Linked DNA regions of Homo sapiens: region 1 is reported to be linked to region 2. The links are microRNA targets in miRTarBase. Many come from high-throughput screens and were not tested one by one. Region 2 holds a microRNA gene; the other region holds the end of a gene's coding sequence.

What was found. The annotated mature microRNA hsa-miR-570-3p reads CGAAAACAGCAAUUACCUUUGC and lies in region 2 at 2,420-2,441, opposite strand. An mRNA with a match to its seed (bases 2 to 7 or 8) in the 3' UTR can be bound and repressed. Matches are read on the target gene's strand: a 7mer-m8 pairs with bases 2 to 8, a 7mer-A1 pairs with bases 2 to 7 and ends in A, and an 8mer does both.
Region 1: the mRNA of SVOP is a reported target of hsa-miR-570-3p. Seed matches in the 3' UTR shown: 8mer at 1,876-1,883 and 7mer-m8 at 4,295-4,301.

The regions. Positions count from the first base shown.
Region 1 is chr12:108,907,940-108,913,005 of GRCh38, reverse strand. It overlaps SVOP (SV2 related protein), which reads left to right. Exons shown (of 16, transcript NM_018711.5): 16 at 265-5,066. The coding sequence ends at 471. Among named protein-coding and RNA genes, the nearest start is that of DAO, 30 kb to the right of the region's middle.
Region 2 is chr3:195,696,829-195,701,900 of GRCh38, reverse strand. MIR570 (microRNA 570) reads right to left here and starts at 2,500; the gene lies at 2,404-2,500. All of the region lies in intron 2 of MIR570HG (MIR570 host gene), which reads right to left. LOC124909477 (a long non-coding RNA gene) reads right to left here. Exons shown (of 2, transcript XR_007096227.1): 2 at 2,831-2,871. It also overlaps the pseudogene SMBD1P.

The DNA of each region.
Region 1 (5,066 bases), not on the chromosome of region 2:
TCTGCAGGCTGTACAAGCATGGCACCAGCATCTGCTTGGCTTCTGGTGAGGCCTCAGGAAGCTTTTACTCATGGAGGAAGGCAAAGGAGGGGCAGGCGTGTCACAAGGAGAGAGAGGGACAAAGGGGGAGAGGAGGGAATCACCAGATCCTTTTTAGCAAGCAGATATCACGAGAGGGCCTGATGTTACTAATACTATTTGATGGTTGGCGATGTCTGTGCTTCAGAAGGGATGCTTTCACCGACCCGTGTCTCCTTCCCCTAGGTGATGCTGGAATCCTCTGTGTACCTGACTCTGGCAGTTTACAGTGGCTGCTGCCTCCTGGCTGCCCTGGCCTCCTGCTTTTTGCCCATTGAGACCAAAGGCCGAGGACTGCAGGAGTCCAGCCACCGGGAGTGGGGCCAGGAGATGGTCGGCCGAGGAATGCACGGTGCAGGTGTTACCAGGTCGAACTCTGGCTCTCAGGAATAGTGACCGATGGGGGACTGAGCTGGTCTTTGAGGCTGCAGAGCTTGGGGGGCTGGCAGGCCCCAACTGGGGCACTGATTGTCACTGCCGACATCAAGAACTCACCCAAGAGTATGACCTGGACCAACAGGGTTTTGTGTCTTGACTCAGTTTGCTCATCTTCATTGAGGTCCACCCAGGGATGGGGAGATGTTTGCTCTAGGGGGTTCTCTGTATATGTGGTGAAAGCTTTGTTCATAACCTGTGGATCTACATGGGAAGACTACCCATATTAGGAGGGTCTGGTAATGCCAGCAACCAATCAGACACCACCCAGAGTCACCCGGCCAAACCCTCAGTGAACAACCAAAATATCTCTCTGTAGATACCGTCCAGGCTCAGGCCCATGTGACACCTGCTGTCCACCCACCGGACCTGTTCAGTAGGTTTCTCCCACACTCACAGCCCCAGGCTTTCTTCTTTGAAATTGCAGGCGATCTAGGTGTGGTCTGAGCAGCTATTTCCTGGCAGGGGCCCCCCGGTTTGCCTCCCTAGAGCCTGACCAGTGGATTCTCTGGCAGATGGACATGGTGCATTCAAACTGGAGCCACATGCCCCCACCCAGCCCCCTCTGGAGTTGCCGTTGTTGGCACCAAGAGATCCAGATGTGTCCCTGGGGACAGCTGGTCTTGCACCAGGTGACAACCTCAGAACGCCGTTACCCCCTGGGAACTGAGGACTGAGGCCAAAGTGAATCAAGCTGAAGTCAGAGCACGGGCCTCCCCTTCTGAAGCAGCGAAGGCCACGGTTCCGACTTCTTTCCTGGCCCCCTCCTTGGTCAGGCTGAATGGTGACTTTTATTGTTTTTTGAGACGGAGTCTTGATCTGTCGCCCAGGCTGGAGTGCAGTAGCGTGATCTCGGCTCACTGCAACTCTGCCTCCCGGGTTCAAGCAATTCTCCTGTCTCAGCCTCCCGAGTAGCTGGGATTACAGGTGCCCACCTGTACTTTTTAGTAGAGACAGGGTTTCACCATGTTGGCCAGGCTGGTCTCGAACTCCTGACCTCAAGTGATCCACCCGCCTCGGCCTCCCACAGTGCTGAGATTACAGGTGGGAGCCACTGCACCCGGCCTGAATGATGACTCTTGAGGGGAAAAAGTTTACTCAGGTTTGCAGGTACAAAATCCAAAATCCAGGGCTTTGGGTTTTGTGCATGGGTAGACAGCTGAATGGGCAGAGAAACCAGAAGGATGCTACACCCACCATCTCATCCCATGGGGATCAGGGGACCAGGATTCCCTGATGCGAAGCTGCTCCTCTGTCCAGGGACGTCTTGATCATTACACAAAGGCAGCCCCTGGAGTTCCATTCATGGAGCCTGCCGTGGAGTGGAGAGGGGTGGGAGGACTCAGGTGTGTGAAATGTATATGTTTTCAAAGGAAGCAGTGGGAGGCCAGTTGGTTTTGAGTTGGTCTCCGCAGGCAACATCACTTCTGGGATTTGGTTTACTGGAGCCTTTTTTCCCATGGTGAAGGCAGGGGACATAGACAAGGAGGGAGGAAGCTGGCAGATCCCATCAAAGGCCAGAGCAGACAGACCTACTGCTTGAAGTAAACATTGCAAGGAAGCCAATTTGTGCGTTCAACTCTTATTAAAACATGTCAGTGATGGACATTGCAAGAGCCTAAGTTTATTCATTGTCATCATGTCCTAGTGACAGTCCAGCCTAACGGTCTGACTACCTTTGTTCATCGGAATTCATCTCAATGCTTTAGTGTGATAATCTCCTTTCCAATGAGTGGGGAAAGACATACCGTTGGCAGCCAACATTGTGGCTGAGCTTGTTGGAGACAACACTTTCTTCTAATGGTGTGCAGGTCATGATGGGGGACTTCTTCCAGCTCAAGTTCTAAATCAACTGCAAACAATACTGTGTCTCTAAAATGTGGGCTGCAGCCCCCTCCGCCCAGGCAGTTGAAGAGGAGATGGCTTGGCAGATCTCTGTCTCTCTCTGACAACCACATTTCCTTGAACCACGTGTGGCTGTAGCTCTAATTATTTCTGGACAGCTGAGCTCTCCTGGGTAACACAGAACTTTTGCTTGTCTCTTTTGCCTTCCGGCTGGTCAGACGCTACTGGATGATCATGTCCGCTCCCTCACCCTAGAATAACCCAGTGGAGCTGGGGGCTGGGGGGGATAGAGTGCTTGGTGGGCAGGAATATTTCCCAGAGACTAGGGTAAAGGGGTTTACAGTTGAGGGCCTTCTCTACTTGAGAAAGTGAAAGTTAAAAACTCCTGCTGGGTATGGTGGCTCATGCCTATAATCCCAGCACTTTTGGAGGCCGAGGCGGGCGGATCACAAGGTCAGGAGATCGAGACCATCCTGGCTAACATGGTGAAACCCCGTCTCTACTAAAAATACAAAAAAAAATTAGCCAGGTGTGGTGGCGGGTGCCTGTAGTCCCAGCTACTCAGGAGGCTGAGGCCGGAGAATGGCGTGAACCCAGGAGGCAGAGCTTGCAGTGAGCCGAGATCGCGCCACTGCACTCCAGCCTGGGCGACAGAGCAAGACTCCATCTCAAAAACAAAACAAAACAAAACAAAAACTCTTTGCCTTGTAAATAGCCTGCCTTTTTCAAAAAAATCAATATTATCAAATGATACAAGAGCTATCACAAAAGGCACCCAAACTTCTGAATATGTGAGACCTTTAGCTGAGAACATTTGTATCTAATTTTGAACAATCCTATTCAAAAAGCTCCTATTTTCGTTAATGGAAATGCCATGTTTCTCTTAGAGTTACGAAAGATCTCAGAAAGTGGCAAAAGATATTTAATGTAGCCAGAGCTATATATTTCTGTTTTTCTCGTACTTCAAGTATTCTGAAAAACATATAACTGACCTTGGTGGTGTTCACAATGGGATGAAACAGTATCTTAGGAATTGACTTTGAAATTAGTATGGAAATTCATTGTTTTTAATATAACATTGAGCAACAGAAAGCCTTGAATGATAAGATCAAGAGTCTCCCCTGCCATTATTTTCAATGGCAAAAACTGCAATTACTTTTTTTTTTTTTTTGAGATGAAGTCTCAGCTCACTGCAACTCTGTCTCCCAGGTTCAAGCGATTCTCCCTCCTCAGCCTCCTGAGTAGCTGGGATTACAGGTGCCCGCCTTGATGCTTGGCTAATTTTTGTATTTTTAGTATAGACAAGGTTTCACCATGTTGGTCAGGCTGGTCTCAAACTCCTGACCTCAAGTGATCCGCCCACCTTGGCCTCCCAAATGCAATTACTTTTGCACCAACCTAAGAACAGTAATCTCAGTCAATAGTGGCTTAAACCATTAGAACCAAAACCAGGCAGAGATCAGAGAAGGTTCAACGCTCAACAATGTTATCAAGAACCCAGCTTCTTTTTGCCTTTTCTTTTCACCATCCTCTGCATGTTGGCCATCTGACCCTGTGCTTGAAACCTCATGGTCACAAAATGGCTGCCCCTGTGCTGGACATCATATTTCTTTTCAAAGAAGGTAGAATGGGAAAGGAGCAGTCATAAAAGGTTTTCTTTCAGAAGAGTCTGTTGGTTTTGGTTAGAAAAGGAAGTCCCCTGGCAGATTTACCATTGCTTCTCATTGATCAGACCTGGGTGTCATGCCCATCCCAGCATGAGTCCTGCTGTAGGGCTGGAAGGAAGGGCCTACGAGCACCAAGGGATACCCACAGCCTCCTGAACACAAAATTGGGATTCTGTTAGCACAGAAGAAGGATAGCAATGGCTGTTGGATGGGCGATGGTTGCAAGGAGCCTGCCGTGGATGTGTAGGCCACAGAGCTCTCATCAGCACTGTTTTCGTGGCCAGGAACAGAAATTCTACTCAGGATAATTAAAATTAAGGAACAGAGCTTTATTATAAGACTGGGATCGGTAGTTAATTTCCTACAGGGGAAATTCAGGGCATGTAAATCAGTGAAATGGAAAAGGTGTAAGGACAAGAGAAACACCAGCCCTGTCTGCAGGGGGGGGCTGCAACTCCCTTCCAGCTGATGTTGTTCCACCATGGGTCCAGTGTGACCAGATCTTACAATGTTCAAAAGAGGAGTCTAGGTTTTTCTGTGAAATCTCCAAATATTAGTATATTGGATCAAAAATGTTCAAATGATGTGTGAGCTCAATAAAATGCATCTGCAGTGCAGCTTTGGTTGATGGGCTGATGGTTCACTCTGACAGTTTAGAGAGATTGCATAGGAATAAAGTACAGCCTGGTGTCATTCAGAGGAACAGGGATCTGGGAAACCACTGGGGCCCAAGACAGCTGCCCCTCTGAATCTGTGGCTCTTGTTTCTTCCCTTTTCTGGCAGAAATGAGTCTAGCTTCCATCTGTTTCCTTGTGGCTGCTGTGTATGCATAATCATGCACAGAGCTTCCATAGCCTCATAACCCAGCTCTGCAAACATACCTGACTCAGCTGCTCAGTGCCCCACTCCCAGATCTTCAGGAATGAAGCTGATTGGCCCAGTTTAGTGTTGGATTGAGTCTTGGTCCAATTCAATTGGGTCAGGAAGAAGTGGTGGAGAGGTACAGACACGGTGGCATTGGCCTGCCCTTTAGCAGGGTGG
Region 2 (5,072 bases):
GACATCTTATCCAGATATAAAACTGGATACACAAAGAAGCCACATCAACCATATAGTCGGTACTTAATAAGTGTCTGAATACATGAATTATTTGATTAATGAATTAATGAATGCTGGGTCACAGGAGGTGGGTCATGCCAGAGACAAAACAGATTAATTGATTGAATGAATGAGAGAGCAGAGATTGGGGTCTCTTTGACCTGTAGCACAGATGCCAGCCTAGCTCCTCACCTGTCTTCACCCCAAGGCTCAGCCACAGCAGGAGGAGGAGGACCAGCCACGTGGCAGCAGGCATCAAGCAGAGATAGAAGTGCTGCAGCGTCCAAGGCCTGGTCTTTAAATATCCACCCATCCCAGCCAGCCCACCTGGTTCCTCCCTACTCCTGGGGAGGAACCAGCAGACACCTGGGCAGTCACTGGCAGACAGCAGGAGTGACACAGGTATCCCAGCTGCTTGAAATAGCTCACCCAAGCAGAGGTAATTTTGACATCCTGGAAACTCCAGCCTCCAGGGGAAGAATCTGAAAAACCAGAGTGACAAAATGACAGCGCTCACAGGAACTTTGCAGATTATCTAATCTTTTTATTTATTTTATTTTATTTTTTGAGACAGAGTCTCACTCTATCGCCCAGGCTGGAGTGCAGTGGTACGATCTCAGCTCACTGCAACCTCTGCCTCCCGGGTTCAAGAGGTTCTTCTGCTTCAGCCTCCCCAGTAGCTGGGATTACAGGTGGCTACTATTACACCCAGCTAATTGCTGTATTTTTAGTAGAGACGAGTTTTCACCACGTTGGCCAGGCTGGTCTCAAACTCCTGACCTCAGGTGATCCACTGCCTCAGCCTCCCAAAGTGCTGGGATTACAGGCATGAGCCACCACACCTGGCCAATTGACTTTTATTAGCATTCATATACAGGTTTTGTGTGAATATATGTTTTCATTTCTCCGGGATAAATGTGCAAAAATGAAATTACTGCATCATATAGTAGTTGCACATTCAGTCATAAAAAAAAACAGCCAAGCTGTTTCCCAGAGTGGCTGCACCACTTTAAATTCTCACAGCAGTGATTGAGTGGTACAGTTCCTTTGCATCCTTGACAATAGTATTGTTACTATTTTTTATTTTGGTGATTCTTTTTTTTTTTTTTTTTTTTGAGACATAATCTTGCTCTGTCGCCCAGGCTGGAGCGCAGTGGCATGATCTCAGCTTACTGCAACCTCCGTCTCCTGGGTTTAAGCAATTATCTTGCCTCAGCCTCCCAAGGTGCTAGGACTACAGGCGTGTGCCACCACACCTGGCTAATTTTTGTGTTTTCAGCAGAGACAGGGTTTTGCCATGTTGGCCAGGTTGGTCTTGAATTCCTGATCTCATGTGATCTGCCTGCCCCAGCCTCCCAAAGTGTTGGGATTACAGGTGTGAGCCACCATGCCTGGCCTTATTTTGTTGATTCTAACACGTGGTGATATCTCCTGGTTTAAAGAAGCGTTTCCCTAATGGTATCAAACATCTTTTCATGTGCTTATTTGCAATCTGTATATCTTCTCCAGTGAAATGTTGCTTTGTATCTTTTGCTCATGTTCTAATTGCATTCTTTGTTTTGTTACTATTTTAAGACTTTTAAATGTATTCTAGATACTAGTCCTTTGCAAATATAGTCATGCATCGCATAAGGACATTTTGGTCAATGACAAACTGCATATAGGATGCGGTCCCATAAGATTATAATAATGGGCCTGAAAAAATTCCTGTTGCCGAGTGCAATGCTACTCATGTGTCTAGTGATGCTCGTGTAAAGCTACTGTGCTGCCACTTGCATAAAAGCACAGCGCACACCATTCTGTACAGTACACAATACTTGATAATGATAATAAATGTGTTCCTGGATAGCACAGCACACACCATTCTGTACAATACACAATACGTGATAATGATAATAAATGTGTTCCTGGTTTATGTATTTACTATAATATACTATTGATCAGTGTTTTAGAGTGTACTCCTTCTCTCTATAAAAGAATTAAGTGAACTAGCAGGCCCTTTGGGAAGTACTGTAGAAGGCATTGTTACCACAGGCGATGACAGCTCCATGTGTGTTATTGCCCCTGAAGACCTTCCAGAGAGACAAAATGTGGAGGTGGAAGACAGTGATACTGATGACCCTGACCCTGTGTGGATCTAGGCTAACATGTGTTTTTGTGTCTTAGTTTTCAACAAAAAAGTTTAAAAAGTTAAAATACTAAGTTTATAAAGTTAAAAAGTTACAGTAAGCTAAGGCTGACTTATTGAAAAAATGTGCTTATACATGTAATATAGCTAAGCTGGCTTTTGCAAACATAGAGTCCTGTGGATGTTATGCTGACTTCGGCTTGGGGTTTTTCACAGAGAGAAGCATGGCAAGGGGGACTCCATCAGGTTGGTGCAAAGGTAATTGCTGTTTTCGCAATTAAAATAATGGGAAAAACTGCAATTACCTTTGCACCCACCTAATAACTTATCTAGGGGACTCTTTCTCCACCCAAAACCCAGGACACTTGGCCCACAACTACATCACCACCCCAGGGTTCCAGGACACTTGGCCCATGACTACATCACCACCCCAGGGTTCCAGGACACTTGGCCCACAACTACATCACCACCCCAGGGTTCCAGGACACTTGGCCCATGACTACATCACCACCCCAGGGTTCTTTACTATAGTTTTCTTGTTCTTCCTTCAATTACGTGTGACATTCCCAACTCCAAGATTCTTCCAGTCCTTCTCTCCCCCTTCATCTAAAGCAGGCTGTCATGAGTTTCTGTCAGCTGCAATCAAGAGTCATGACTCTTACAGTGGGTAGGATTACTCCCTTTTTTGTTGTCATTAAGGAAACCTGTAAGAGGAAAAACAAACACACTTTATGTGGAGAGACAGGGAAAGTTGTTCTATTCAGTCTGGAATCTAGTCCCTCAGCTGGTGGTCCACCTTCGGATTCACTGGTCTTGGGAGTAAGACGGTGCCTTGTAGTCAAAGAAGTGAGGAATTCTGGTGCCTCCTGAGGGTGGAACTGAGGAGAGGAGACGTGAGAGAGGATGCTGGAAAGGAGGAAGCAGCCAGAATGTGTAGGGCCTTTGTGGCCAGGCCAAGGAGCCTCAGGGAATATCTGAGCGTCTTAAATAGGTCAGAGGGCAATTCTGAAAACAAACTCCTTCTACCTGCTGTGTAGGCAATGAGTTGTCATTGTTAGATAGAGGATAAAATGAACCCAATTAGATTATTGCCATCATTCCAGTGATTGAAGATGTTGATCTGTAATAGGGTAATGGCCATACACTTTCGAGAGGAAAAATGTTCAAATTTAGGGGATAATTAGAAATCTGCACTTACAGCCCTTGGTGACACTTTTCCTATGAGCCAAACGGAGAGGGGGAGAGAGAGAGAAGGTGGACAGTCACCGACATATGAGGCAGTGGAAGAGGAACAGGCATGGATAGGAAGAGAATTGTGGGACACACTGGGTTCGAGATGCCTGTGTGAGACAGTCTCATGAATATGTCCAGTAGTATATTGACCAAGCAAGTCTGTCAGGAGCCTCTGGAAATGAGGTACAGAATTTGATAGTCATCACTATGGAGATGGTAACCTGAGCCGTGAGAGAAGCTAAAATCCCCGGGGAGAGGATGTAGAATGAGAGGAGAAAATGGGCCAGGACAAACACAAGGAATGCTCGGAGGGAGGGGCAAAACCAGAACAGTACAGCGTCCCCAAACCAAGGAAAAGAATGTTGCCAGAAGAGGAGAGTCAGGCTGTTTCAAACTCTGCTAAGAAGTGAAGGATGTTGCATATTGAGTAGAGTCCATTGGGGTTACCAGTCAGGCTGACTCAGGGATCCTCTTTGGCAGAAGTAGTTCCAATGAAGTGGGAGGAGGAAGGGAGGAGCAGAGGCCAAATGAGCGTGAGGAGTGTTTAGGAGTTGACAGAAAGTGTATCCACTTTTTTGAGACGTTTAGCCAGGAAGAGGGAGAGACATGGGGCAGTAGGTGGAGGAGGAGATGAAATTAAGGGAGTGTATGGAGTTTTAAAATGGAAAGCTTGATCCTGTTTAAATGCTGTTTTATGCCCCTACGAGGGCGAGGTTAAACATACAGAATAGAGGCATAACTGATAGAGCCAAGACTCCCACCCAGGAGCGGGTTTCGAGCGGCACCTCTCTAATTCAATCCCAAAGGAAAAGAGGATACATGTGGGTCCAGGTACATGCTGAGGTTTGGTGGCAGGACTTTGAAGGAGGTCCCATCTGATGGCTTCTATTTCTCCTGTGAAATAGGGGAAGCCCTGTCTGCTGGTTGTGATGTGCCGTGACAGTCAGAAATGCGGGGAAAAGGGGACAGGTCTGAAACGGGAGGCGTTAAGAATGGGAAAGTAAAGGCAGGCGCGATGGCTCACGCCTGTAATCCCAGCACTTTGGGAGCTCGAGGCGGGTGGATCACCTGAAGTCGGGCATTTGAGACCAGCCTGGCCAACATGGTGTAACCCCATCTCTACTAAAAATACAAAAATTAGCCAGGCATGGTGGTGTGTGCCTGTAATCCCAGCTACTTGGGAGGCTGAGGCAGGAGAATCGCTTGAACCCAGGAGGTGGAGGGTGCAGTGAGCTGAGATCGCGCCGCTGCACTCCAGACTGGGTGGCAAAGCGAGACTCCAACTCAAAAAAAAAAAAAAAAAAGAATGGGAAAGGGAGAGTGTCTGGGGAAGCAGCGTTGCCTCGGCAAGGCCTGAGACCGGCTGGGGTTAGAGATCAGGACTCCCGCGTGGCCTCGTCTCTGCCTCTGTGCATTTTCCCCCAGCAGGTCAGCAGTGTGAAAGGCGGGGGTTCTAGTAGGTCTCACAGGGAGACAATGCAGGAAGGGGCTGAGAATTGCAAGTGAGAGGTTATTGGTAGGACGGACAATGCAGGAGCTGGATGGACTGCACGGACTGAGCGATCGCCACCGAGAGATATTTGGGGTACCCTGCCCCAGTCCCCAGCCCTCAGCCCCCGACCCACCATGGGAGGTGGGAGCAGCGGGCAGGCCGGTTGGGGGCCAGATACCC